2 separate regions of the Homo sapiens genome follow, and region 1 is linked to region 2. Evidence: fine-mapped expression QTL. Tissue or cell type: whole blood. Region 2 holds a variant in brackets; the other region holds the start of a gene. All regions are shown on one strand. Distances are between the middles of the regions.

Region 1 (11,003 bases), 25 kb before region 2:
GAGCACACAGAAAACATCAATATATTACAGTGATGGGATAGTGATGGCATATCTTCCAGACTCGGAAAACTATGAAATACTGTGAACCTAAATTAGCTACAATCTTACCTCTAATTGGGCTAATTTTTCCTGAATCTTACAAAACTGGTCATCATCCACCTGAACTGCTTTCCTCATCACTTCTCCCATTTCACAGATTCTGTCAATCTGACTCTCAATTTCCTGTGAAGATATTAAGGAAACAAAGGTGGAAAAATCACCTGTTCTGTAGATATAAAGAACGTAAAAGCATGTGCATTACGATTTTTAAAAGTTCATTTAATCTATGATACAGAAGTTACAATGGAGTTTCCCTACAATTTTAGTCCTCAGACATGAAGCCATAGTAAAGTGACCTTGTATTCACGGATATTTTTTTTTTTTTCTTTCAAAAAATCAATTGTGGAAGACAGTGTGGTGATTCCTCAAGGATCTAGAACTAGAAATACCATTTGACCCAGCAATCCCATTACTGGGTATATACCCAAAGGATTGTAAATCATGCTACTATAAAGACACATGCACACATGTTTATTGCGGCACTATTCACAATAGCAAAGACTTGGAACCAACCCAAATGTCCATCAATGATAGACTGGATTAAGAAAATGTGGCACATATATACCATGGAATACTATGCAGCCATAAAAAAGGATGAGTTCATGTCCTTTGTAGGGACATGGATGAAGCTGGAAACCATCATTCTGAGCAAACTATCACAAAGACAGAAAACCAAACACCGCATGTTCTCACTCATAGGTGGGAATTGAACAATGAGAACACTTGGACACAGGGTGGGGAACATCACACACCGGGGCCTGTCATAGGGTTGGGGGAGTGGGGACGGATAGCATTAGGAGGAATACCTAATGTAAAGGACGAGTTAATGGGTGCAGCACACCATCATGGCACATGTATACATATGTTAACAAACCTGCACGTTTTGCACATGTACCCTAGAACTTATTTAAAAAACAAACAAAAAAAAGGCCTCCTTAAGGGGATCCTCATTCCAGTTGTATATGTTCTATTGATACCACTACTAAGGAATACAGTTTTTTAAAATATATATAATGTTTCTTATATTTAAAACCAAGAAGTGAAGAGTAGAATGCATTTTCTGTTTTCGCTCTTTGCCCAGACATCAAGTTGATAATCATATGGTTATCTGTGATATGCATCAGCTCATAAGTAACCCTTTGGTATGTGAACATGGGGAATTTTAAAATACTGGGCTCTTCAATATGGATTTGTGTTACACTCATGTCATCATCTCATGCCTTCCAAGATTTCAAAGGATCTGATGGCTGTAATTGCAGAGAATAAATGAGTAATCTTTAGTCTATTTCAGAAATAGAAGGCCACATGATTCCCTTTCCATAAAGGACTAAGGTTTCATCCAATGCCAACTCTGGTAAGGCCTTAGTCATTTTTGTGGGTGAAATCTGATTCGATGCAAGCAATGTTATTTTCATTTCTGAAAATTATCTATGTCCAGTGCATCAATCCCCCAGTAGGTCCACACTCCAATAAAAAGATTTGAAATGGAAAAAAAAAATCAATTGTAGTTTAACTACCCATTGGATGTTGGATACTATCTCTAAGTGGCTGTTTAACTTAAATTTGAATACTTTTACTGGCAGGAAGCTTACTACATTCCAAGGTGCTTTATTCCATCTTTGGACATATCACTTAGAAAGTTTATCTATCTGAGTAAACTCTGTCTCTTTCAAGGTTCAAGTTTTTTCCTCCATACGAGAAGAAAATCTATTTTTCTCTTCCAGATGAAAGCCATTCAAATATTTAAAATATCTGTTTCCTAAAACTTTTAAGTCAGTAAAATGCATTCAATGGAATTTAAGATGAAGCTTATATTTCACTACATCTCACAGAAGTAGTAGGCTCCAACCCTATACATCTAGAATTAAATGATACAGTACACAAGAATGTACAATGACAACCATGAAGCACCTATAAACATAAGAACAATTACTGAGTCTCCCAAATTAGCAAAGAACAGAAACTATGCCATGTTTGTTTTTTTAAAAAACCATACTTCTCTCCCCTAACAACATAGTATGATACTATGTGGTTCAGTTTATAAAAGGTTTACTGACTGCCTGCTGTATGTCAGGTACTATGTTAGGAATAAAATGTGAATTCATGCGCCTTACAAGCAAGGAGCTTAAGTTAAATGTATAAGTAATAACCAACCAAGTGTTTACCAGGCAGCTTCAACACTAACTGGCATTATGTTTGGTGGGAGCGCTAAGAATTAATGAACATTTTCAAAAGAGATCTTGGTGAGGGAGGGGGAACCTTAGTCCCACTCAAATAAAAGGATCTGAGCAGCCCCTATCCTCCTTCTTTCTATTCATATCTTTACAAAGCCATGGCAAAATAAACAACAAATGTGATAAACATGAAAGGAAAATGAGCTTACTTTTCTTCAAAAACAAGCACACATGGCCAGGCGCAGTGGTTCATGCCTATAATCCCAGCACTTTGGAAGGCTAACGTGGGTGGATCGCTTGAGCCCAGGAGTTTCAGACCAGCCTGGGCAACATGGCGAAATGTCATCTCTACCAAAAAACAAACAAACAAACAAACAAACAAACAACCCCACAAAAATTAACAGGGCGTGGTGGTGTGCACCTGTAGTCCCAGCTGCTCCGGAGGCAGAGGTGAGACGATGGCTTGAGCCCAGGAGGCAGAGGTTGCAGTGAGCCGAGATCGTGCCATTACACCACGGCCTGGTCGACAAGAGCCAGACCCTATCTCACAAAGCAAAAAAACAAGCACACAATCTAAAACAATCTCAAGATTTCAATTTGGTTCATTTCGAATTTATTCAAAGTTTCTTACTGCAGAGTGAGACTGGTGAGCTTTCAGGACTGGTTCAGCATCCACCGCTTTTTTAGCAACCATTAACTGTAACATCTGTTTCCGATATTTGCTCATGATAAGTTCCAAAGCATCCTGGTGTTCCTCCAAGGAAATCCATAGCTCTGTCAAAAAATAAAAGAACTTGGCAGTGATGTCTGAGAGACAGTTCCCAAATCCAAAGTCTTAACAGTTGGAATTTTGTAACACTATATAGATAATATGAATCTAAAGTTGTAAATCAATGTTTAAGTCCGCAAAACTGAACAGTTAAAGTCTATGTGAAAGGTAACTTTCTAGGCAGAGAAGCAAAGTCTTGCAGAAACAACAATGGATGTATCATCAGAAGACATGTGTTTGAGTTCAGTTCTGTAACTTGCTTGGTTAATACTCATAAGTAAATCATTTAGCTTCTTCTGAGCCTATTTCTTAACTGCATTGTGGTAGATAAAAATGAAGATATGAGAATACAGTAGAATGATATATGTGAAACCCCTCTGGTAAACAACTATTAATACCACAATCATTAATAATGTACTAATCAAGCCTAAGAATATATACCCTTAGAATAAAATTCTGCTGCTTCACCTTGCACAAACAAGAACATAAACAAAACCTTAAATCTTACCTTCAGTGTTTATATTAATACTTAAACATTAAATTTTAAGTCCATGAGGCTATGAACTCTTTTGTTACACATCTGAGGATGCTTAAAAATAAACCATGCAATAATACCAACTCTACACAGCACCTCTTTGGTAAGCTGCTGCAATATTAGTCAGATGACCTTGAAAAGGGTAATCTAACAAACTTTATTGTTACTGGGCCAGATCAGGAGGACTCTCCTACTAAAAGTACTGACCTGGAAATATATGTACACTTTTGTAAATGTTTAGGGCAATTTTGCAATAACTTTAAACTATTACCAGATATGAAAAGGCCTGACTAACCTCTGTTTTCCTGTTGCAAGTCTCTAATCTGTGTGTTCTCTTGGGACAGCAGAATGTGAGGTTTGTATTTGGACATGTCCTTCATATCGGATGCATCCTCTTGATACTGGACAAATAGAGACAGACTAAGCATGCCTTAAAGAGAACAGCGGCAGATGCAACTGAAGAGGCAGAAGTTAGGGCTCCAGGGCAGGATTCTCAGCCCCGACCCAGGAAAATGGTCTCACCGCCGCCCTCTGAGACCGGGAATAAATTCCAGGCCGAGTTCCCACTTTACCTCGCTCTCCACCCTTCAGTGCCCAGAATCCGAGAGCACTGGACTCCTACCCTCTGCCTGACCTGGTCCGGAAGCGCTGTCCCCGCCTCCCGCATAGCTGCTACCCGCCGGTGCAGCGCCGCCGACTGATCCACCAGCGACTCGGCGGCCGCATCGTGCTCCCGTAGCCTCTCCAGCAGCGTCTTGGCGTCTGTCAGGATCTTCTCGATGGTGCAGCTCATAGCAGCAGCACCACCCCAGCCCCTGCCGGGCTCAGCTACGCGACTCGCTCAGATCTTCTGGGAGTCTGTCTCAGCATTACAGGCGTCATTTCCGGGCACGTTTACAAGGTGTCTTGGTAGGCGCAATGGGCGCCTGCGCAGTGGCAGCCTATTTTGCGGGTTGACCCGCTTTAACCTGCGGCTTCCTTGCAGTCCTTCCTTGCGCGGAGCCCCAGACCTACACTTGCCACGCCGTTGGTTTCCAGTTACCACAGCCTGGTGGTCAGGCTATGATTAGCTGGGCAGTGGGAAGGTCTCCTTTCCCTACTGGTTTTCATTGATGTGGGTTGTTCTTCAGTCACAGTTAGTTTCTTTTTATTTTCATTATTTTTTTCTTTTTTGAGACGGAATCTTGCTCTTGTCCAGGCTGGAGTGCAGTGGCGCGATCTTGGCTCATTGCAACCTCTGCCTCCAGGGTTCAAGCGATTCTCCTGCCTCAGCCTCTCGAGTAGCTGGGATTACAGGCATGCGCCACCACGCCGGCTGATTTTTCTATTTTTAGTAGAAACGGGGTTTCACATGTTGGCCAGGCCGGTTTCGAACTCCTGACCTCAAGTGATCCGCCCGCCTCGGCCTCCCAAAGTGCTGGGATTACAGGTGTGAGCCCCCGCGCCTGGCCTACTTTCATTTAATTTTTTTTAAATTGTGGCAAAATACACATAAAATTTAATATCTCAGCCATTTATAAGTGTACAGTTCAGTTGTACATTCATATTGTTATACAGCCACCATCAGCATCCATCTCTAGAACTCTTTCATCTTGCAGTACTGAAGTTCTGTACTCATTAAACAATAATTCCTCATTCTTCCTTATCCCCAGCTCCTGGCAGCCACCATTCTACTTTGTGTCTCTACAAATCTGACTATTCTGGGTACCTGACATGAGTGAAATCATACAGCATTTGTATTTATATAACTGCCTTATTTCACTTAGTGTAATGTCCACGAGTTTCATCCATATAGTAGCATATGTTAGAATTTCCTTCCTTTTTAAGGCTGAATAATATATATATACCACGTTTTGTTTATCCATTCATCCGTGGATGGACAGTTGGGTTGCTTCCACCTTTTGCTATTGTCAATAATGCTGCTATTGCAACTGGCTCACGTCTGGCTGCTTGCTGCCTAGAGGCCAAAAACATGAGAAGTGACCTGTGGTGAAAGCTTTACTAATCAAATGCTCGCAGATGGGGAATGGCTAGGCTCATGCCTTCAAAACAGCATTCCACTTTTTTTTTTTTTTTGGTCAAGGTATCCCAGAGACAGTATCAGTGTCCAAACTTTAATTTTGTCCCATATCAATGCCAGGGTGGTGTGCTACCTGCCCTGAGTCCATCATGTCCCTCCTGCGGCCAACTGACTTAGAGTCAAAAGAGTTACAGCCAATTAAACGTTCTAGGTCAGATGGGAAGGAGGTGGGCAGGCACTCATTAACCTTAAAACCCCTCTTAAGCAATGTTAAGAGGCAAAAACCAAAAGGCAAGGGTTACAAAATTGACTTATCTATAAATTCTATGCATTGAGCTGCTGTAATCTTGGCTTGTTGCAATTAGCTATACAAAATGCAAGCATTTTGTTTAGCTGTTTTGGCATCTGTGTCATCCTTGATTTGTAGGGTCTGAACTAATTTTAGCTCTCAATACTGGCCCTTACAACATTACGTTATAGTCTCTAGGCATGGCGGGATTGAAGAGTTTCAACTTTTGTAGGTAAAACAAAACAGAAAGAATTAACAACATTTCAAACACAAAGGTCATAAACCCTGCCTAGTTTTGAGAATAACAGGAAAAGAAGTTCATAGGTAGCTAAACACTTAAATTATTTAGTATCAAGGCACAGAATAAATTATATTAATTCAGATAGAGGCAGAATTGTTAAATGAATCTTAATATTTTTGAACACAAGACTGTCCCTGTGTCTCATGAAAGCAGTTTACTTTGTCGCCTTTGCCTGAGTCTAACGATGAGGCTTTGGTTAATTGCAGTTTAGTGTCAGATACTGGCAGGAGTTGATGCCTTCTTTGGATGAGATATGTGTAAGTCCCTATAACTTAAAAGCACAAGGATTAGTTAATATCACCTGATAAGGACCTTTTCAAGGAGCTGGAGGTGTGATACCGGAGTCTATGACCTGACTGGAAGCTGTAAAAATATTTTACAACCTTGCAGTGATTAATTTTTATAGCTTCGATAAACCCCAGCAATAAGTCAGAGACTTAATTTACGATTTTGATTTTGAGGACATTGGTCAAAGATTTTAAAAGCCTCAAAACATTTGATCAAAACAAGATAATATTCATTGTAAAAATAATAGTTACTCATTTAACCAAACTGATAATTAAAGACTTTAAAGGCAATTGAGAAGGTTACCAGGACATAAAAACCTGAACCCTTTTAAATCTCAGTTTTTCTAGGCAATTAAAAACCCATTAAAGAGAGCATGGGAATTATTTGATAAAACATTAAAATCTTGTTTCTTAAGCAAGTTACTACACAGGCAAAAAACCCCTTCTGCTGTGTGACTGCTTCTCCTTATGGGAAGACCATGTAGGTAACCTGAAAGTCATACTTGAAAAAAGTGCTTGAATTTAATCAGACACAAGAAGAGTGTATTCATGCTTATGAGTATAGCAAGGGAATACATCTCTCTGAGCAATTGCGTGAGAAGTTTCCTGATTACAACGAAAATCACATATCAAGAAAAGCCGGGAGTACAGAATCAAGTTATATTGGAGGAAAACACTGCTTTTATAGACTTCTAAGATAAAACATTTCAGCATCAGGCCCCAACAGTTAGAATCAGAGGAAAAAGAATTAGAGGAGCTGATGGAAAAAGTTGAAGGAGAGTGTCCTTTTCAAAGGGAGGAAAAAACTGAAAACAGCCAGACACAACAAAAGCTGAACTTCTGAGATATGAATCTGAGAAGTTTTAAAAAAAAATAGGTGATAGAATTAAAAAGCAAAATTTCCTTTAATTTCATTAAGAGTAAACCAACACCTTAGGAAAACCTTATTTAAACCTAGGGAATCATTCATTATTTTTATTTTTATTTTACTTTAAGTTCTGGGATACATGTGCAGAACATGTAGGTTTGTTACATAGGTATACATGTGCCATGGTGGTTTGCTGTACCTATCAACCCATCATCTAGGTTTTAAGCCCCACATGCATTAGGTATTTGTCCTAATGCTCTCCCTCCCCCTGCCCCCCACCCCCCAACAGGCCCGGGTGTGAGATGTTCCCCTCCCTTTGTCCATGCGTTCTTATCGTTCAACTCCCACTTATGAGTGAGAACATTTGGTGTTTGGTTTTCTGTTCCTGTGTTAGTTTGCTGAGGGTGATGGTTTCCAGGTTCATCCATGTCCCTGCAAAGGACATGAACTCATTCTTTTTTTTTTTTTTTTCTTTTTGAGACAGAGTTTCACTCTTGTTGTCCAGGCTGGAGTGCAATGGTGCGATCTCGGCACACTGCAACCACTGTCTCCTAGGTTCAAGCGATTCTCCTGCCTCAGCCTCCCAAGTATTTGGGATTACAGGCATGTGCCACCAAGCCTGGCTAATTTTATATTTTTAGTAGAGATGGGGTGTCTCCATGTTAGTCAGGCTTGTCTCAAACTCCCAACCTCAGGTGATCTGCCCGCCTCAGCCTCCCAAAGTCCTAGGATTATAGGCGTGAGCCACTGTGCCCGGCTGAACTCATTCTTTTTTATGGCTCCATAGTATTCCATAGTGTATATATGCCACATTTTCTTTATCCAGTCTATCGTTGATGGGCATTTGGGTTGGTTCCAAATTTTTGCTATTGTAAATAGTGCTGCAATAAACATACGTGTGCATGATTTATAATCCTTTGGAATGATTTATAATCCTTTTGGTATATACCCAGTAATGGGATTGCTGGGTCAGATGGAATTTCTGGTTCTAGATCCTTGAGGAATCGCCATACTGTCTTCCACAATGGTTGAACTAATTTACACTCCCACCAACAGTGTAAAAGCGTTCCTATTTCTTCACATCCTCACCAGCATCTGTTGTTTCCTGAGTTTTTAATGATTGCCATTCTAACTGGCATAAAATGGTATCTGATTGTGGTTTTGATTTGCATTTCTCTAATGACCAGTAATGATGAGGTTTTTTTTATATGTTTGTTGGCCCCATAAATGTCTTCTTTTTTTTTTTTTGAGAGAGAGTCTTGCACTGTCCCCCAGGCTGGAGAGCAGTGGTACGATCTCGGCTCACTGCAAGCTCCGCCTCCCGGGTTCACGCCATTCTCCTCCCTCAGCCTCCAGAGTAGCTGGGACTGCAGGCGCTCACAACCACGCCTGGCTAATTTTTTTTTTTTTTTGTATTTTTAGTAGAGATGAGCTTTCACAGTGTTAGCCAGGATGGTCTTGATCTCCTGACCTCATGATCCGTCCGCCTCAGCCTCCCAAAGTGCTGGGATTACAGGCGTAAGCCACCACACCAGGTATAAATGTCTTCTTTTGAGAAGTGTCTGTTCATATCCTTTGCCACTTTTTGATTGGGTTTTTTTTTTCTTGTAAATTTGTTTAAGTTCCTTTTAGATTCTGGAGTTTAGCCCTTTGTCAGACGGATAGATTGCAAAAATTTTCTCCCATTCTGTAGGTTGCCTGTTCACACTGACGATAGTTTCTTTTGCTGAGCAGAAGCTCTTAGTTTAATTAGATCCCATTTGTCAATTTTGGCTGCGGCTGAAATTGCTTTTGGTGTTTTAGACTTGAAGTCTTTGCCCATGCCTATGTCCTGAATGATATTACTTAGGTTTTCTTCTAGGGTTTTTATGGTTTTAGGTTTTATGTTTAAGTCTTTAATCCACCTTGAGTTAATTTTTGTTTAAGGCATAAGGAAGGGGCCCAGTTTCTGTTTTCTGCATATGGCTAGCCAGTTTTCCCATCACCATTTATTAAGTAGGGAATCCTTTCCCCATTGCTTGTTTTTGTCAGGTTTGCCGAAGATCAGATGGTTGTAGATGTGTGGTGTTATTTCTGAGGCCTCTGTTCTGTTCCATTGGTCTATATATCTGTGTTGCTATCAGTACCATGCTGTTTTGGTTACTGTAGCCTTGTAGTATAGTTTGAAATCAGGTAGTGTGATGCCTCCAGCTTTGTTCTTTTGCTTAGGATTGTCTTGGCTATATGGGCTCTTTTTTGGTTCCATATGAAATCTAAAGTAGTTTTTTCTAGTTCTGTGAAGAAAGTCAATGGTAGCTTGATGGGAATAGCAGTGAATCTATAAATTACTTTGGATAGTATGGCCATTTTCATGATACCAATTCTTCCTATCCATGAGCATGGAATTTTTTTTTCCTATTTGTTTGTGTCCTCCCTTATTTCCTTGAGCAGTGGTTTGTAGTTCTCCTTGAAGAGGTCCTTCAGGTCCCTTGTAAGTTGTATTCCTAGGTATTTTATTCTTTTTGTAGCTATTGTTAATGGGAGTTCACTCATGATTTGGCTCTCTGCTTGTCTATTATTGGTATATAGAAATGCTTGTGATTTTTGCATATTGATTTTGTATCCTGAGACTTTGCTGAAGTTGCTTATAAGCTTGAAGAGTTTTTGAGCTGAGATGATAGGGTTTTGTAGATATACAATCATGTCTTTTGCAGACACAGAAAATTTGACTTCCTCTCTTCCTATTTGAATACCCTGTATTCTTTCTTTTGCCTGATTGCCCTTGCCTGAACTTCCAATACTATGTTGAATAGAGTAGTGAGAGAGGGCATCCTTGTCTTGTGCCGGTTTTCAAGGGGAATGCTTCCAGCTTTGCCCATTCAGTACGATATTGAGTATGGGTTTGTCATAAATAGCTCTTATTATTTTGAGATACATTCCATCAATACCTAGCTTATTGAGAGTTTTTAGCATGAAGGGATGTTGAATTTCATCAAAGGCCTTTTCTGCATCTATTGAGATAATCATGTCATTTTTACATGGTTCTGTTTATGTGATGGATTATGTTTATTGATTTGTGTATGTTGAACCAGCCTTGCATTCCTGGGATGAAGCTGACTTGGTTGTGGTGGATAAGCTTTTTGATGTGCTGCTGGATTTGGTTTGCCAATATTTTATTGAGAATTATCACATTGATGTTCATCAGGGATATTGGCCTGAAATTTTCTTTTTTTGTGTTGTGTCTCTGCCATGTTTTGGTATCAGGATGATGCTGGCCTTATAAAATGAGTTAGGGATGAGTCCCTCTTTTTCTATTGTTTGGAATAGTTTCAGAAGGAATGGTATCAGCTCCTTTTTGTACCTCTGGTAGAATTCGGCTGTGAATCCACCTGGTCCTGGACTTTTTTTGGTTGGTAGGCTATTAATTACTGCCTCAATTTCAGAACTTGTTATTGGTCTATTCAGGGATTCAACTTCTTCCTGGTTTAGTCTTGGGAGGTTGTATGTGTCCAGGAATTTATCCATTTCTTCTAGATTTTCTAGTTTATGTGCAAAGAGGTGTTTATAGTATTCTCTGATGGTAGTTTGTATTTTTGTGGGATCAGTGGTGATATCCCCTTTATCATTTTTTATTACATCTGATTGATTCTTCTCTCTTTTCTCCTTTATTAGTCTTGCTAGC
Region 2 (11,003 bases):
GTGTTTTGTTTTAAATAATCATCTTTCCTGTGTTATTGTAGTTCTTTTATCTTGAAGTCAGCAGTTAAATTTATAACAGTATAGCCTAACATTTCCTGCACTTTGGGATTTTAGGGAGATGTCTATGTCTATACTTGGGGTAAGGTATTAAGGGGATACCTCTGGTAGGATGGAGAAATGACTTTGAGAGAGTAGGAAGAGATATTGTGAGAAACAAAGAAGTCGTCTGGAGTAAGAGATGGCAGGAAACAGTAAGAATATGTTTGTGGAAGATGTAAACATTTCCCAGGGAGTCTTAGAAATGCTTGGGGAGTAGACAAAACTCCCCGAAGTTACATAAGATGAGGGCTTAGACTGTGTTAACAGAACCTGGGCAACATAGAGAGACTCTGTCTCTACAAAATATTTAACAATTAGCTGGGTGTGGTGGTGTGTGCTTGTGGTCCCAGCTACTAGGGAGGCTGAGGTGGGAGGATCGCTTGAGCCCAGGAAATTGAAGCTGCAGTGAACTATGATCATGCCACTGCACTCTAGCCTGGGTGTTAGAGGTGAGACCCTGACTCAAAAAACAAAACAACAATAAAAAAGACTATGTTAATAGAACATTAAAGAGAAAAGCAATCCCCTTGATTCCGAACTTGGGGGATGTTTGAAGGTTATACTTGTAACCCAAAGAAACTTGACTAAGGCATACCAAGATATGTTAGGACCTTTTAGAGGGCAAAGATCTGGGGCAAACCCTTGATTTGCCAGCCTTGGCAGGGTAGACCTGAATGTGGGGAGTGAGGAGCTTCCCCTGATTCCACATCTTTAAGTCAGTCTGGCATACATGATAATGTTAGCTGTAGACGGTCTGATGCTGCTTGTGTCCTATCCTCTCCCGCTTTTCACTATTAGTTAAAATATATCTAACCATATTACCATCTGACTCTGATTCTTGGCTTCATCTCTTGTTTACAGTTCTGCTCTTGTTCATCGGACCAGCATTCATATTTGATCTTCCCTGTTGTATTCTTGGCCTTTTCCCAAGGAGTTGTCTCAGATCCACCTTAGGACTTCAGGTCTCAAAATCAAGGTGTGTTTGGGTTGATAAAAATTCTCTAAAATTAGATAGTGGTGATGGTTGTACAACTCTGAATATATTAAAAAACACTGAAACGTATATTTTATCATGTACTTTATTTTATTTATTTATATATATATTTTGAGATCCTCTCACTCTGTTGCCCAGGCTGGAGTGCAGTGGTGTGATCTTGGCTCACTGCAACCTCCACCTCCCAGGTTCAAGCAATTCTCCTGGCTCAGCCTCCCAAGTAGCTGGGACTACAGGCACGTGCTGCCATGCTTGGCTAATTTTTTGTATTTTTAGTAGAGATGAAATTTCCATGTTAGCCAGGCTGGTCTCGAACTCCTGATCTCAGATGATCCACTTGCTTCGGCCTCCCAAATTGCTGGGATTACAGGCATGAGCCACTGCGTCTGGTCTGAAACATATAGTTTAAATGTGTGAATTTCATAATATGTGAATATATAAGTATTTATTTACATATATATATTTTATATATATATAACATATATATTATATATAAGTATTTACTTACATGTAAGTATGGTATGTAAGTAAAACTGTTAAAAACATTAAGCTCTGGATCACTGGCCAGTGCACAATAAAAATAATAGTTTACATAGCATTCACTGTATACAATATAATGATCTAAACTCTTCATTTATAATTCTCGCAACAGCTCTATGAGGTAGATATTATCATTATCCCTACTTTTACAGAGAAGAAACATGAGATGCAGTGAAGTTGTGTAATTTTCTCTAGGTCTTACAGCTTCTATGTGCTCAGAGCCAAGAGAAGAGCAGGGAATCTGGCTTCAAAAGCAGTTCTCTTTACCACTATGCTATAGTGTGCTGTTAGGAAAGTGTGGGAAGTTTAGTGTGTCTGTTTTACCCATCAAAAAAGGAGATAAAGTTAGGTGCTAAGGATGAGAGTAGGAGCAGTCACTGAATGATGCAAATGTTTAGAATAATTACTGAAGGGAGTCAGAGGGTGTATCATTAATCTATTGTTGCATAATAAACTACTCCAAAACGTAGTGGCTTGAAACAAAAACCATTTATTTTGTTCATGAACCTGCTGGATAGTTTTGGTCTGGGTCAGGTTCATCTGATTCTGGTTTGTGATTTGTTGGTTGGCTGAGTCTAGTTGGTCCTGGAATGATTCACTCACATGTCTGTCTGGTGGTAGGCTGGCTGTCAACTGTGGTGATGAGGGTGACTGAATCCTGTGTCTCTCATCCTGTATCAGGCTAGCCCCGGCTTGTTCACATGGCTACAGGATTACGAGATCATTCTAAGTTCCAACATGCAACTGTTTTTTAAATCTCTGCTTGCTCATATATGCCAAAATGTTTCATTGGCCAAAGCAAATCCTGTGGTCAACCTGCATTCAAAAAGTAGTGAAATATTTATTATTATTATTATTATTTCAAATCCCCTACTTTAAGAAGCATGGTGTGGAGAAATAAATCCCACTTCTTTAGGGCAGGGAAAGAATGCATGGCCATTTTTTTTTAATGCCTCCTTTTAATCATGCAAACATATATGACAGTAAATATTAAATAAGAAAAAAAAAATGGTACTATTAAAGGACTTCATGCCTTCCACAAACCTAGAAGGTAAACAAGTGTCTACTTGTTGGAAAAAACAATTGTAATTTCCCAAGAATATATCTGATGGAGAACCAAGTTTAGATGGCCATATCGGGAAGATTACTCCCAGTAAATAGATCTCATTTGCTATGAATCGTGGACATTTAACAACATATGCAAAATGTTAAGACTTAGAATTGTATTTCCCAAGGTCTTTTTTTATTTTTTTTAATTGATCATTCTTGGGTGTTTCTTGCAGAGGGGGATTTGGCAGGGTCATAGGACAATAGTGGAGGGAAGGTCAGCAGATAAACAAGTGAACAAAGGTCTCTGGTTTTCCTAGGCAGAGGACCCTGCGGCCTTCCGCAGTGTTTGTGTCCCTGGGTACTTGAGATTAGGGAGTGGTGATGACTCTTAATGAGCATGCTGCCTTCAAGCATCTGTTTAACAAAGCACATCTTGCACCGCCCTTAATCCATTTAACCCTGAGTGGACACAGCACATGTTTCAGAGAGCACCGGGTTGGGGTAAGGTCATAGATCAACAGCATCCCAAGGCAGAAGAATTTTTCTTAGTACAGAACAAAATGGAGTCTCCTATGTCTACTTCTTTCTACACAGACACAGCAACAATCTGATTTCTCTATCTTTTCCCCACATTTCCCCCTTTTCTATTCGACAAAACCGCCATCGTCATCATGGCCCATTCTCAATGAGCTGTTGGGTACACCTCCCAGACGAGGTGGTGGCCGGGCAGAGGGGCTCCTCACTTCCCAGAAGGGGCAGCTGGGCAGAGGCGCCCCCCACCTCCCGGACGGGGAGGCTGGCCGGGCGGGGGCTGCCGCCCCCGCCTCCCTCCTGGACGGGGCGGCTGGCGGGCGAGGGCTGCCCCCCCTCCCCACCGCCTCCCTCCCGGAAGGGGCGGCTGGCCGGGCGGGGGCTGCCCCCCACCTCCCGGACGGGGAGGCTGCCAGGCGGAGACGCTCCTCACTTCCCAGACAGGGCGGCTGCCGGGCGGAGGGGCTCCTCACTTCTCAGATGGGGTGGCCGGGCAGAGACGCTCCTCACCTCCCAGACGGGGTCGCGGCCGGGCAGAGGCGCTCCTCACATCCCAGACGAGGCGGAGGGGCAGAGGCGCTCCCCACATCTCAGACGATGGGCAGCAGGGCAGAGACGCTCCTCACTTCCTAGACAGGATGGCGGCCGGGAAGAGGCGCTCCTCACTTCCCAGACTGGGCAGCCAGGCAGAGGGGCTCCTCACATCCCAGATGATGGGCGGCCAGGCAGAGATGCTCCTCACTTCCCAGACGGGGTGGCGGCTGGGCAGAGGCTGCAATCTCGGCACTTTGGGAGGCCAGGGCAGGCGGCTGGGAGGTGGAGGTTGTAGCGAGCCGAGATCACGCCACTGCACTCCAGCCTGGGCACCATTGAGCACTGAGTGAACCAGACTCCGTCTGCAATCCCGGCACCTCGGGAGGTGGACGCTGGCAGATCACTCGCGGTTAGGAGCTGGAGACCAGCCCGGCCAACACAGCGAAACCCCGTCTCCACCAAAAAAATACGAAAACCAGTCGGGCGTGGCGGCGCGCACCTGCAATCGCAGGCACTCGGCAGGCTGATGCAGGAGAAGCAGGCAGGGAGGTTGCAGTGAGCCGAGATGGCAGCAGTACAGTCCAGCTTCGGCTCAGCATCAGAGGGAGACCGTGGAAAGAGAGGGAGAGGGAGACCGTGGGGAGAGGGAGAGGGAGGGGGAGGGGGAGGGGGGAGGGGGAGCAATGCATGGCCATTTTTGCAATCTGCTATAGAAGGAGAGGTAACAATGGTTAAAGATTGATGAGGGGTGTTAAGGGTCTAACTAAAATTAGAAATTATACTTTTGTCATAGCACAATCCCTATGATTTTACATTTTCTGTAGCATGGCTCAGCTTCTTAAAGGCAGATTGTGGTACTAGAGGTGGAAGAGAGTGAGACCTTTGGGAATTAGTCATGGTACCCACTCAAAGAAGGTGGCAGTGGACCTAGGGATATGGTATTTCGTGGATAGGGTGATATCCACCTGATGTGGCACTGGTGCTTAACAAAGGCAGTCCCATGCAGTAGAAGGTAGCGAGTAGAGATCACTATTTTAGTGAGATAGACGAGGCTAAACAACAAGAATTCCAGATAATTTTTGACCAGTCATTTTTGTTGTCACATGTGATGCATTCCTTAGAACATCCATAAATATGAGTGTGGAAGATAGGTGACTTGAAGAGAGAGTGAAGGCAAAAGCCAGAGATACACTAAATCTTAAAATTCTGTACACAATATAAACCACAATTCCCAGGAAGAGAGTGGCTTCAATTTTTAATAAATTGGAAAGTTGGGTTAGATAAGCATGCTTACTTTATTTTTTTTCGTTTCTTTTTAAAAATTTGTGAGTGGTTTGTGTATGTGTGAGAAGTACTGGCAAGGTTATACGTTAGCTTTGTTACTCCTGGATGGGTTCATAGTGGTGGTATAGTCAAATTTCTCTACTGGACTGATGCCAAGGCTTCTGCTTTTCCATTTGCAAGGTTGCATATGTTTTTAATAAAGGTTTATAATTATAATGTAATTTCTAAACAATGTGAACATTTTTCAAGTATCACTAGACATT[G/T]TTTTTCCCTGTAAAACATGCCGTAAGGCGAGGTGCAGTGGCTCATGCCTGTAATCCCAATATGCCTCTGTAAGCCAAGGCAGAAGAATTGCTTGAGGCCAGGAATTTGAGACCAGCCTGGGCAATATAGCAAAGGCCCTGCCTCTGCAAAAAACTATACATAAGAGTAACTGGGCATGGTGGTGTGGTAGCTACTGGGAAGGCTGAGGCAGGAGGATTGCTTGAGGCTAGGAGTTCCAGGTTGCAGTGAGCTATGATTGCACCACTGCACACTTACCTGGGTGACACAGCAAGACTCTCTCTGTAAAATAAGGAAATAAAATAAAACATAAAATGTGCTATAGGGATTCTTTGGTGAATTTGATTTGATGACACGTCTTTGTTAAATAAGATGAAAGTAGTAAGTAGTAACAAAACTTAAACCTACTATCTCCAACCAAAAAGCACAAAAATGTCTTAAATAATAACAATCACAACAATAATGAACATTTATTGAACACTTTATATGTCTTAGGCATCTGATAAGCATTTACAGGTATTTGCTCATTTATTCTTCACAATATTTTATGAAATGACTACTAGTAAAGGGTATTGGTGTGTTTTAAAACTTTCTAAAATGTTCTTCAAATGTGATAATCGTAAGTTCACTCATACTAATCAACTATTAAATTAGTATGAATTTAAAAAAGAGAAGGCATCCTTGACCAAAAGAGATTCAAATTTTCAGTTCAGATATTCCTTAAAAACTATATGATAAAAATCTGCTGTTATGCCATCTTATCAGTAATATTACTCATATTAAAATAACAGAACTTCTTTGAATTGATTTTATTCTTGATTTCCTGCCAGAAGATTCCCCTGGTATTTACTTTTTAAAAATGTCCCATTAAGCTTTACTTTCAGAACATTAACCATTTAAGTAATTAATTTACACAGTTTTATTAAAAGTTTAAAGTATTACTAATTTCATTCAACATTATTGTTGTTTAGTATATTCATTGAAATTTAAACGACCATTGACATATGGAATATTTAATCAGATTTTCTTAGCCATTTAAAATTCACTCAAGGAATAATATATAATATAATCGATGGAAGAGTAGTGGAAATTCAATTCAATTGTTAAACAATTATTTTAGGCCAGGTGTAGTGGCACACGCCAGTAATCCTAACACTTTGGGAGGCTAAGTGCGGGGATCACTTGAGACTAGGAGTTTGAGACCAGTCTGGGCAAGGTAGGAAGACCCCTATCTCTAAGGGGAAAAAAAAAAAGCTGGGCGTGGTGGCACACACCTGTCGTCCCCAGCTACTCGAGAGGCTGAGATGAGGATTGCTTGAGCCCTGGAGGTCAGGGCTGCAGTTAGCTGTGATCACTCCAGGCTGGGTGATAGAGCAAGACTCTGTCTCAAAAAAGAAAAAAAAATTCTGAATTATCTAGGAGAAAGAAATACAATGTATGCTTAAGCTGTAGACAACACAACTGAGCCATTTACTGAGATTATTTATGTTTGTGTTTCCTTGGGACTTCAGTGCGATCTCTCTCAGAGAATTTCTTCACAGAGTCTAAAGATCTTTTATCTTCCTATGTTTAGTTATTGAAGAAATGCTTTTTCTAGCATATCTTGGATAAGCAAGTATCCTCTGAAACTCTATCACTCTCATGGAACAGAGATTCATTCTAGGTTTAAACCCCTCTAACTCAGTTAGTAGTTTTGAATACCTTTATGAAACTTGACTTGGTTTATCGAGCTAAAAATTAATGGGGCAGTTCCTTGGCCTTTTGGGATTTGCAAGATACACATGGAATTCTGTCTCTAGCTACTCCTTTTTGCCCATTTTCATGGTCTTCTCCCTGACGGATGGTTGCATGTCCCAGTAGATGAGACCTAAATGCTAGTCTTACATTTATGCCATTGTTCTGCCCCTGGTAGCACTCACTCTGCCAGTTCTTTCGATGGTCTCTTGTATGAGATGGGCCATGTTCAAGGACAAGTCAAGAAGTCCCAACAGGTTACTCCTAGAACATGAGGATTATGATTTCCATGTTAGGCCCCTTTCTTTCCTGTGGTCATATGGCCATACATATTGTGATCAGTGTTTTGAGAAGAATAGTCCAGTTTATCTCCCGTGTAAATTTATTTCTTCTTGAACCATTACATGAGGTTAGAAGTGTATACATTTTAATTGTAAACACACCTACCAGCTATGTGATGATGGAAAAGTCATTTAACTTTTCTGAGCCTCAGTTTCCTCGTCTGTAAAATGAGAATAACACAGTACCTGTGTAATGTGGTGCTTGTGAAAACTAAAGAGGCAATATGTAGAAAAAAACAATTATAGTGCCTGGACCATAAATAGATTGTACCAGTCTGTTTGGGATGATTGCAAAATTAAACAGTACAGAAAATTAAGCTGTGGAACGTGTCAGTTTATTAAGAAATGATGGCTGGGTGCAGTGGCTCATGCCTGTAATCTCAGCACTTTGGGAGGCTGAGGCAGGGTGGATCATCTACGGTCAGGAGTTCAAGACCAGCCTGACCAACATGGTGAAACCCTGTCTCTATGAAAACTACAAAAATTACCCAGGCATGGTGTTGCATGCCTGTAGTGTCAGTGACTCGGGAGGCTGAGGCAGGACAATCGATAGAACCCTGGAGGTGGAGGTTGCAGTGAGCTGAGATCACACCACTGCACTCTAGTCTGGGTGACAGAGCGAGCCTCCATCTCAAAAAAAAAAAGGAAATGACTCAGTCGGGCACAGTGGCTCATGCCTGTAATCCTGGCACTTTAGGAGGCCGAGGTGGGCAGATCACTTGAGGTCAGGAGTTCAAGACCAGCCTGGCCAACATGCCAAAACCCTGTCTCTACTAAAAATACAAAAATTAGCTGGGCATGGTGGTGCATGCCTGTAGTCCCAGCTACTCAGGAGGCTGAGTCATGAGAATCACTTGAACCCAGGAGGCAGAGTTTGCAGTGAGCTGAGATCGTGCTGCTGCATTCCAGCCTCATCAACGGAATGAGACTCTGTCTCAAAAAAAAAAAAAAAAAAAAAACCTCAATGAAAACAATCCTATGGTGAGGCAGAAGTAGAAAAACTGACCATAGTACTGGAAGCATGAGTCCTGCTCTGATACTCTTCAGGCATTACCACAGATATCACCTTACTCTGTACAGGTATCCGTCCAGATTCCTGGGAAGTCTCTGCCCAAAGTGCCATGTAGCAACCGCACCTCTTAAAGGCAGTTCATCTGTCTGAGACTGTTAGAGCCTTATGCTTTGGACAGCCCAAGTACCAACATCCACTAAACATCTTTTGTGCCTTAAAATGGACAGTAAGCCAGGTGCAGTGGTGAGTACCTGTAGTCCCAGCTACTCAGGAGACTGAGAAGGGAGGATCACTTGAGTCTAGGAGTTTGCTACTGCAGAGCTATGATCTTGCCACTGCACTCCAGCCTAGGTGACAGAGTGAGACCCTGTCTCAGAAAAAGAGAGAGAGTGAGAGAGAGAAAAAAGGACAGCAAAACATGCCATCAAAACATAAGACCTCTGCTTCCAACCTTCAGCCAAAATGGGGTAACCAGGACTTGATTTATCCTCCTGCCTGCTTAATTGTTTTGAACCAACTAAAAAATTGCACAAAATATATGTGCAACAATGATTTTCAAGACAGTGTGTATCAGGTAGCACTGGAAAGTGATCCTGAGAGGGGAAACAAACAAGGTGAGGCCTGTGATTGCCCAATTGACAACCTAGAGAGAGATTCCGGGCACGGCATGGAGAGGAGCTACACAGGCAGAGCCTAGTGGTCTCCCTGAGTTGAGAAGAAACTGGGGGTCTGAGGGAGGCCCAGGCATCCCAGAGTTCACAAGTCAGAGTACCAGAGAGGAAAAAGCTTCAGTGAGACCAAGACAGAAAGCAAGAATGAGTGAGAGAGAGAGAGTGAGCTCTGGAGATATGGACGGAGCTGGGTTTAGGATGAGGCAAGGGAGATACTTAGACAACAAACTGTAAGGAGACACTCATATATGGGTACTTGCTTGAGCACAAGCAGGTGAGAAAACTGCATGAGGCTGGACAAAGACCACTTAAAAAGATTAGAGGGAACCATATTTGAAACTCTTGAAGCAGAGACTAAGGGAAATGTATTACTCTTGTAAACCAAAAATAAAATTCTAAGCCCCCCACCATCTGAATGGACCCTCCTCTTAGCAAGGGTATTCCAAAGTTAACCTGAAAAACTAGTTCAGGCCATGATTGTAACGGGGAGCCAGACATGCCTCATTATACCCCTTTCCCTTTTGAAATTACTGATAGAACACACTCTTTAAGTTTGATAAGAAACATTTACAGCTTATTCTCTTTGAAGCCTGCTATCTGGATGCCTCATCTGCATGATAAACCTTGGTTTTCAGAACCCCTTAGCATAACCCAGGCATTCCTTTCTATTGATAATAACTCTTTCAACCAATCAGAAAATCTTTAAATCTACCCGTGACCTGGAAGCCCCTGCTTCTAGTTGTTCCACCTTTCTGGACCAAACCAATGTACATCTTACATGTATTGATTGATGTCTCATGCATTTCTAAAAAATATAAAACCAAGCTGTACCCTGACCATCTTGGGCACATGTCGTTAGGATCTCCTGAGGCTGTCATGGGTGTGTCCTTAACCTTGGCAAAATAAACTTCCTAAATTGATTGAGACCCATCTTAGATACTTTTGGTTTACACCCTCTACAGTAGCAATAGCCAGAGTATCAGCACTTTCGCACTGGTTCCCCAATCCATAATTACCAGAGGATGATGTAAAGTGGGGCTAGGTGACACAAGCACATGTAGTGGGTTTGTGACAGGAGAGAAATCCAGAGCTTAGGAAACCTGAATCTTTTTCCTAAGGCTAGTGAGCATGTCTCCCTTTTGGTATGGAGGGAGACACTATGTCATCTTTGAGGGCTGTTTGCTGTTCAAACATCTTTGAAAAGGTAGTATGAATAAAGGGAAGTAAGTGCAGAAATGTGTAAGACACTTGGAGAATTGTCTCTCAACAATTACCTTCCTGTATTATTACAAAGGCACACTATTCCCTTATGGGAATTGTAAACTCAAAGGACCAAGGTGAGGGGTGGGGTGCATACAGGTATTATAAATAAGTTTATTGAGCTAAGTGCTAATAATAGGGAGTGGCAGGCTCTGTGGTGAAGATGAATTCAAGAAAGCATGCTCCTCCCTATCCCCATTTCCTGAAGACATTTAGATTAAACAAACTTTAAATAATAGTGCTTGTCAAATAAAACTACTGTCACTGTTCACACTCAGTGATGAGCATGACCGCTTCCTTACACATTTGTATTTGTGTACTCTCTACAAGAATCTTGAAAAAATACATATCTACATATATATGTGTATATATGTGTATATATATGTATATATGTGTATATATGTATATATATGTGTATATATGTATATATATGTGTATATATATGTATATATACGTGTGTGTGTGTGTGTGTGTGTGTGTGTGTGTGTATGTGTATATAGTTTTTTTAGAAAGGGCCTCGCTGTGTTGCCCAGGCTGGAGTGCAGTGGTGTGATTATAGCTCATTGCAGCCTCAACCTCCTGGGCTCAAGTGATCCTCCCTCCTCAACTTTCTGAGTAGTTGAGAGTATAGACATATGCCACCATGTCTGGCTAATTTTTAAAATTTTCTT

What was found. PIP is the estimated chance that this variant, and not a neighbour inherited with it, causes the effect. A credible set is the group of variants that fine-mapping cannot tell apart.
Region 1: it holds the start of SIKE1, and the variant in region 2 is the best candidate, but not a certain one, in a credible set for the expression of SIKE1 in whole blood (INTERVAL, PIP 0.67).

What each region holds. Positions count from the first base shown.
Region 1 is chr1:114,776,238-114,787,240 of GRCh38, forward strand. It overlaps SIKE1 (suppressor of IKBKE 1), which reads right to left and starts at 4,448. Exons shown (of 5, transcript NM_025073.3): 1 at 4,212-4,448; 2 at 3,873-3,978; 3 at 2,905-3,047; 4 at 109-222. The coding sequence starts at 4,370. RefSeq lists enhancers at 3,634-4,200, 4,201-4,766, 4,231-4,470, 4,711-4,830.
Region 2 is chr1:114,800,959-114,811,961 of GRCh38, forward strand. No RefSeq gene overlaps it. Among named protein-coding and RNA genes, the nearest start is that of SIKE1, 26 kb to the left of the region's middle. The variant G/T (reference allele first, on the strand shown) is at 5,296.